Homo sapiens: one gene and its partner. The protein of the gene in region 1 binds, or shares a complex with, the protein of each later gene. Each region holds a gene or a part of one and is shown in the gene's direction. Other genes may lie near its edges.

Evidence for each region. Proteins that work in one complex are often made in the same cells at the same time.
Region 2: NSMCE2 (region 1) and EID3 share a complex: the UniProt entries of both Homo sapiens proteins name them as parts of the SMC5-SMC6 complex.

Annotation. Positions count from the first base shown.
Region 1 is NC_000008.11:125,101,662-125,105,610, forward strand, and holds part of NSMCE2 (E3 SUMO-protein ligase NSE2), read left to right. Parts: intron 1-352; exon of another isoform or gene 353-389; 5' UTR 390-485; intron 486-655; 5' UTR 656-669; coding exon 670-826; intron 827-3,949. UniProt on the Homo sapiens protein: E3 SUMO-protein ligase component of the SMC5-SMC6 complex, a complex involved in DNA double-strand break repair by homologous recombination. Is not be required for the stability of the complex.
Region 2 is NC_000012.12:104,302,179-104,305,705, forward strand, and holds EID3 (EP300-interacting inhibitor of differentiation 3), read left to right. Parts: upstream 1-1,560; 5' UTR 1,561-1,756; coding exon 1,757-2,758; 3' UTR 2,759-3,027; downstream 3,028-3,527. UniProt on the Homo sapiens protein: Tissue-specific component of the SMC5-SMC6 complex, a complex involved in repair of DNA double-strand breaks by homologous recombination.

The DNA of each region.
Region 1 (3,949 bases):
ACAAATTGTGGTTGAAGATATAGATTAGGAAGTGTTAAATATGAAGGTAATAACTGAAACTGTTATAGTGGATGTGCTGCCAGAAGACAAGTTTATACAGAAATTCTGCTTTCACTGACTCTGGGATCTCACCAAGTCTATTAATCTGTTAGAAGCCAGAGGAACTGGCAGGAATATAGATTTTCTCTTTTTTTTACAGTTTCCAGAATTCAGTATGCATATATGTTGGATAGTTTAACGATTACAGGTTTTCAAAATAGTTTACTAATAAACTATTTTATTAGTATTTTTTTCTCTTTGGAAAATTGCATCATATGAGTGGTCTACTTTTTCTAACCCATTTATCTTGTAGGCTTTTAAGAACTGTGCTATTGTTGACTTCTTCACAGAATCAAGCACTCTTTTGGAAGAGGGTAATCTCTCTCCAAAAACTGAGGACACTTACCTTCCCCATATATTGAGTCCAGCTGTGTTTGGTGGCCCAGGTGAGTGGCACAGTGATTTGGTGTCTTCTCTATAGGATATACAGAATAGTGTGGCATTTATGAGATATTGGATACATTTGTATGAATGTTTACAGCAGTTTTATTAATATTTTCCTGTGCAGTTATTATTCTGACTTACGAATCTTGTTTCATTGTGTTTGAAAACTTAGGTACTAATTTCAAGATGCCAGGACGTTCCAGTTCAAATTCAGGTTCAACTGGTTTCATCTCCTTCAGTGGTGTAGAGTCTGCTCTCTCCTCCTTGAAAAACTTCCAAGCCTGTATCAACTCTGGTATGGACACAGCTTCTAGTGTTGCTTTGGATCTTGTGGAAAGTCAGAGTAAGTAAAATTAAAACCTCTTTTGTGTCTACTTTGAGGTAACACTGTGTGGTGGTATTTATCTGGGGGTGCCTTTTGAGTATCCTTGGGGGAATGATTTAACCCCTCTAGGCATCTGTTGTCTCATTTTATTCTACACACCGCAGCAGGGTACTGAGGGTGAAATAAGATTGACTCATTCATGTGTGTTCAGACAGTTAAGTTCCATGAGAAACTGCGCTAGAAATGTATGGGCAAAGATTTGAAGATCCTGACCCCAAGGAGCATACAATCTAAAGTATTTGACATTTGTGAACTGTAAGGTATATAAATTTATTATGATATTGTTATTTTTCAGTAGTTTATACTTTGGTCATACTTGATTAACCAGTAGATAGACTAAGCTTATGCTAGGGATACCAGCAAAGGAAGGCCTCAACAAAAATGAGAAAAGTTCAACTTTAATGAATTTTACCTACATTTGTTCAATCAAGAAGATCTAGAAAGATGTGATTTGCAGGCCGGGTGCAGTGGCTCACCCCTGTAATCCTAGCACTTTGGGAGGCCGAGGCCGGCAGATCACGAGGTCAGGAGTTTGAGACCAGCCTGGCCAATATGGTGAAACCCCGTCTCTACTAAAAATACAAAACCAACATGGTGAAACCCCGTCTCTACTAAAAATACAAAAAATTAGCTGGGTGTGGTGGCAGGTGCCTGTAATTCCAGCTACTCGGGAGGCTGAGACAGGAGAATCACTTGAACCCGGGAGGTGGAGGTTGCAGTGAGTCGAGACCGAGCCACTGCACTCCAGTCTGGACAACAGAGCAAGACTCTGTCTCAAAAAAAAAAAGAAAAAAGATGTTATTTGCTTTCTTTGGAGTAGAATCGTTTTTATTTTATTTTACACATGGAGCCAGAGGAGCAGCATGATCCTTTTGTTTTGTTTTTATTGGCATAGGTTTTGAGCAATTTGTGATGTGCCGTGGTGTGATTTTTTTTGTCCTGACTGATATTGTTTGAGATTTATGGATCTGTCAGCTTATAGTTTTTTGAATCAAATTTGGAAAAATTTCTGCTACTATTTCTTCAAATATATTTTTTTAATTCCTCTGCTCTCCTCTCCTTCTGTGTGACTCACATTTCATGTATGTTAGATGGGTTGATATTGTCCCATAAATCAGTGGAACTTGATAGATTTTTTCCAGTCTTTTTACTCTTTAGCTTCAATTTGAATAATTTCTATTGCTAAGTTCATTCATCTTGTCTACTGCAGTGTCTAATCTGATAATTCCATTTAGTGAATTTAAAAATTTCAGTTACTGTATTTTTAATTGTTGAAGACATAACAAAGAATTAAGTAGAATCTTTTTTTTTAGTCTTCCATTTCTTTCTTCATTGTGTCCATATTTTCCTCTACATTCTTGAGTATATGGAGCATGTTTATAATAGCTATTTTAATATCCTTGTATGTTAATTCTGTCATCTCTATGTGTATTATGTTGTTGAGTGTTTGGATTTTGTTGTCTTTTTTTTTTTTTTTTCAGCCGGAATTTTGCTCTTGTTGCCCAGGCTGGAGTGCAATGGTGCGATCTCGGCTCACTGCAACCTCCGCCTCCCGGGTTCAAGCGATTCTCCTGCCTCAGCCTTCGGAGTAGCTGGGGTTACAGGCATGCGCCACCACGCCCAGCTAATTTTGTAATTTTAGTAGAGACGGAGTTTCTTCATGTTGGTCAGGCTGGTCTCAAACTCCCAACCTCAGGTAATCCGCCTGCCTTGGCCTTCCAAAATCTTGGAATTACAGGCATGAGCCTCCATGCCCAGCTTGTTGTCCTCTTTTAAATAGTGTTGGAGTTTGTTTGGTGTGCAGCTAAGTGATTGTGGATTAGGCTGATCCTTTCTAGGCTTATCGTTAAGCTTTGTTAGGTCAAGTCTAATATAGCCTTTATGTTAGGGCTAATTTAGCCTTGTTACAAAGCATGGCCCTTCTGGAGTCTCTCTTGATTGCCCCGAGGGTTCAGTGCGATAGCTCTACTCTGGCTGGATGGAATTTGAGTGTCTCCCGGTCCTAGGTCCTACGTGACTGAACCTGGGAGTTGTTCACTTTATAGCTGTCAGTATTTGTTGCTCAGCATCTTAGGACTCAGCATCAGACTCAAGGGGACCCCAGTGCAGATTCCTAGAGCTCTTTATCTGCATAGCTCCCTCACTCTCTTGCAAACCCTGCTGGCTGCCTCAGCCTCCCTGAACTGAAGTCTCTGTCTCCTCAATCCTTCAAGACTGCTGTGCTAGGCCGAGCATGGTGGCTCCTACCTGTAATCCCAACACTTTGGGAGGCCGAAGCAGGAGGATCTCCTGAGGTCAGGAGTTCCAGGCCAACCTGACGAAACCCTGTCTCTACTAAAAAACAAAAATTAGGCATGGTGGAGGATGCCAGTAGTCCCAGCTACTGGGGAGGCTGAGGCAGGAGAATTGCCTGAACATGGGAGAAGGGGGTTGCAGTGAGCCGAGATTGTGCCACTGTACTCCAGCCTGGGGAAGAGAGTGAGACTCTGTCTCAAAAACTCCCTTGGATTCCTCCTCCCTTGCGCAGGGAGGAGGCCATTGCAAGACTTTTCCCAGTTTTCCCTTATTGCAGTAATTACAGTCCTGTCCCGCCTTTGTCCTACTGTCCCACAGCTATTGTTTCATATATTTTGTTTAGTTTTTCAGTCATTCATGGCAGGTGGACCAGCTCCATACAGTTATTCATTTACGGCTAACAGCAGGTGTCACTCATAATCTTTTTAGTGGGTGGCCTCCAAATGTTTTAACCCTACCCAGTCTGTTTTTGATTATGTTTTTGGTGATCATAATTTAGCTTTGATAGATAGGCCTGGATAAAAGTCATAATAAAATCTTAAACCATAAGAGAGAAGACTGGAACATAACCCCTTGGGAGATTGTATCAGTTTTTTTCAGGATTCTTTTTGAAGATTCCTGGGAGTTTTAGCTACAGAGTTTTTTTTTTCTCTTGGTTTTGTTTTGTTTTAAATAAGAGGTATATTTTGTTGTAAAATACAACATGTGCAATTTAAGAAGAATTATAAACATCATTTTTTGAAAGGTTCATGCTCTAAAGCCAAAGTTGGCAAAGTTTTTCTATAA
Region 2 (3,527 bases), on another chromosome or scaffold:
AGTTAATAAAATAATTGGGAGCAAATGGTAATATAAGGATTTTGGAGTAACTTAATACTACTAGATTTTGCTGTTTATACATTTACAAAAAACTTTCTGCTAATGCTAAAGAAATAGAACAAGTCTATATGCATAAAGGAAGGTAGGGCTAATTTACTTCCTGGTGCTATGAAACTGGCAATTGGACAGGTGCAATTGTGGGTGTCTTTTTTTTTTTAAGGTGTACCTGTTGCAGGTTTGAAAAGCTGTTGATGCTCATGGGTTGTTTGTGTGCATGTTCTCTTTAAAAACCAGATGTATTCATTCCCTTTTTTTTTTTTTTTTTTTTTGAGACGGAGTCTCGCTCTATAGCCCAGGCTGGAGTGCAGTGGCCCGATCTCGGCTCACTGCAAACTCCGCCTCCTGGGTTCACGCCATTCTTCTGCCTCAGCCTACCGAGTAGCTGGGACTATAGGCGCCTGCCACCGCGCCCGGCTAATTTTTTGTAGTTTTAGTAGAGACGGGGTTTCACCGGGTTAGCCAAGATGGTCTCGATCTCCTGACCTCGTGATCCGCCCGCCTCGGCCTCCCAAAGTGCTGGGATTGCAGGCGTGAGCCACCGCGCCCGGCCATTCCCATTGTTATGTATACTTTGCTATTTGCTGCTGGTGAGACAGATAAGGAGTCACGTCTTTAACTGCACTTGAGTTTCCAGTGACCCCATTAAATCCAATGGGTAAATTTTCCCACGCAGATTACTCACCCAGTTTACAGATTAAGCTTTCATATCCTTAGACTGTATCTGAAATTTTCATAGCTTTGCCCACCTTTTAGGGTTCAGAGTTACTACCCATTCAGTGTCGGTGGCCTTTAGCTGTTGGCAAGCTTCCAAGTAAATAGCTCTTTTGCAGAGATCTCTACCCATTCTATTCTTCCACTCCTGGGTAGTGGAGAACCAAAGTTCACCTGAGTAATGCCCGTGCCCAGCACCCAGTTTCCTGCAGGGGTTAGCACGGATATTGGAGGCTCCCCCGATCCCACAGATACTCAGGATGGGTATTGGAGGGGGCTTGGTTTTTAAGAGGACATGTGAAAGTAATTAACCCGATTTACATTTGTATAATGAGTCCAAACACCACCTTGCAAAAGAACTGAGAGTTTAGCCTGCTTAATGGAGTTTCTGCTTTTCACGGTCCTTGGCCTTACCGACGGTTTACAGTCCAGCCAGATTTAGTTCACAAAAAACCAAAACCAGGTCGACCTCACTGCAGTATATGATGGCAGCGAGCGTTTTAAAGCGCAGGACCTTTAGTCTCCTCAATAGTTTTGTGTAAAGTTGTCCAAAAGTGTTTTTTTTTAAAGTGAGGTGATCCAGTCGGTAAACGCTTTGAAAAAGAATAGCTGTCCCCTGAGCGGGCATTAGTCGCGTGTGAGGTCAGGGCCCATCATTGCGCGTGTTGGGAGCGCCGCGCTGGTCTATGAGCGAGCGCCTCGGCTTGTGGCTGGGCCGGGCCGGGGCGGGGCTGTCTTCCCGCGGAGCGTGCTGGGGGCGGGTCGCGCCGGGCCGGGCCGCTAGTGCGCATGGGCGGGCGTCCTCGGCTCTAACTGCCGCCACTTTCCACACGCTGGGAGGGCCGTTACCTCAGAGATACCCGTGGCCGGCATGTTGGTTGAAAAAGCTTCCCGGAAGGGAGACGAAGAGAAAGGAGAGGAGCAGCTCGTGATCATCCCCGGTAGCGAGTACGCGGCGAAGTAGGCGGCGGCGGAGGGAGCGCTGATGAAGATGGATGTGTCAGTGAGGGCCGCGGGCTGCTCCGACGACCTCAGCTCTGGGGAGGCCGACGTAGACCCAAAGCTCCTGGAGCTCACCGCTGACGAGGAGAAGTGCCGCAGCATCCGCAGGCAGTACCGGCAGCTCATGTACTGCGTGCGGCAGAACCGGGAGGACATCGTGAGCTCGGCGAACAACTCCTTAACCGAGGCTCTGGAGGAAGCCAACGTCCTCTTTGATGGCGTGAGCCGAACCAGAGAAGCAGCCCTCGACGCCCGGTTTCTTGTTATGGCTTCTGATTTGGGTAAAGAAAAGGCAAAGCAGTTAAACTCAGATATGAACTTCTTTAATCAGTTAGCATTTTGTGACTTTCTGTTTCTGTTCGTGGGTCTGAATTGGATGGAAGGCGATCCTGACAAGTTGAGTGATTGTGATGATAGCATAGCTCTTTCCTTCTGGAAGGCAATAGAAAAGGAAGCAACATCCTGGATGGTAAAAGCTGAGACATTCCATTTTGTTTTTGGTTCATTCAAGCTAGAACGTTCTGCACCAAAGCCCCGACTTGAACACCAGAAAAAAGTTCGCAAGATGGAAGAAAATGGCAACATGCCTACAAAGTTGCAGAAGTTGGACCTGAGTAGTTATCCAGAAGCGACAGAAAAAAACGTAGAAAGGATTTTGGGATTGTTGCAAACCTACTTTCGAAAGTATCCTGATACTCCTGTGTCCTATTTTGAGTTTGTGATTGATCCAAACTCTTTTTCTCGTACTGTGGAGAATATATTTTATGTTTCTTTTATTGTAAGAGATGGTTTTGCAAGAATAAGGCTTGATGAAGACAGGCTGCCAATATTAGAGCCGATGAATGTTAACCAAATGGGTGAGGGAAATGATTCCAGTTGCCATGGCAGGAAACAGGGAGTTATATCTTTGACTTTACAGGAGTGGAAAAACATTGTGGCAGCTTTTGAAATTTCTGAGGCTATGATTACATACTCCTCATACTAAAGATTTCTTAGTATAGCATCCTTTTTGTGTTTTTTTTCTGAAGTTAGATGGAGAGTAAAATGTAAACTGAAGCACATATTGTATCTCTTGTAAAGTGAAAAAGTATTTTCAAGAACATCAGACATTGTTTTACTGTGCAGCATATTTTTCTTAGTAATTTATAAGGTCATGATCTTCTGTTATTAAAACAAATTCACTGGCATATTTATGGGAACGTTTTATTGAATGCCCTTTAAGACTATTAATAAAAACAAGTTTTGGATACCAAATTAAGGGATATTTGATAATTTGCAAAACATAATAATTTACGAAAATCAGTGATGATGCTCTGTGATGCGTTGCTTTCTCTGTCATAGGGAACCAAGAGAATCCCAGAAAGGGTTCCTAACCAGGTTGGGCAAAGAGTGGGTAAAAAACAAAAGTTAAAAAAAAAAACCTGTCTGTAAGGCAGTGAATATGCAACATTAAGACTAAAAAAGTCATTGCAAGGAAGACTTAGGATTTATGAGTGAGTATCCATATTCTAAACAATTTCTGTTATTGTACTCAGCAAAAGTAGTGTCTCTGCTGTAGTAGTTGAGGTATCAGCTAAGGGTGAAAGGTGAGTAGAAACACGAAGAAGGAAAAGGCATTCTAGGCAAGAGAATAGCAAGGTCAAATGCATGGAATTGTTAGAAGTTAGGCACGAGAGGACCATTAGATTTATGGAAAAACTATTATATTTGATAAGCTGGGCAACAATTGAATAACTTCATCTATTAATATCCTG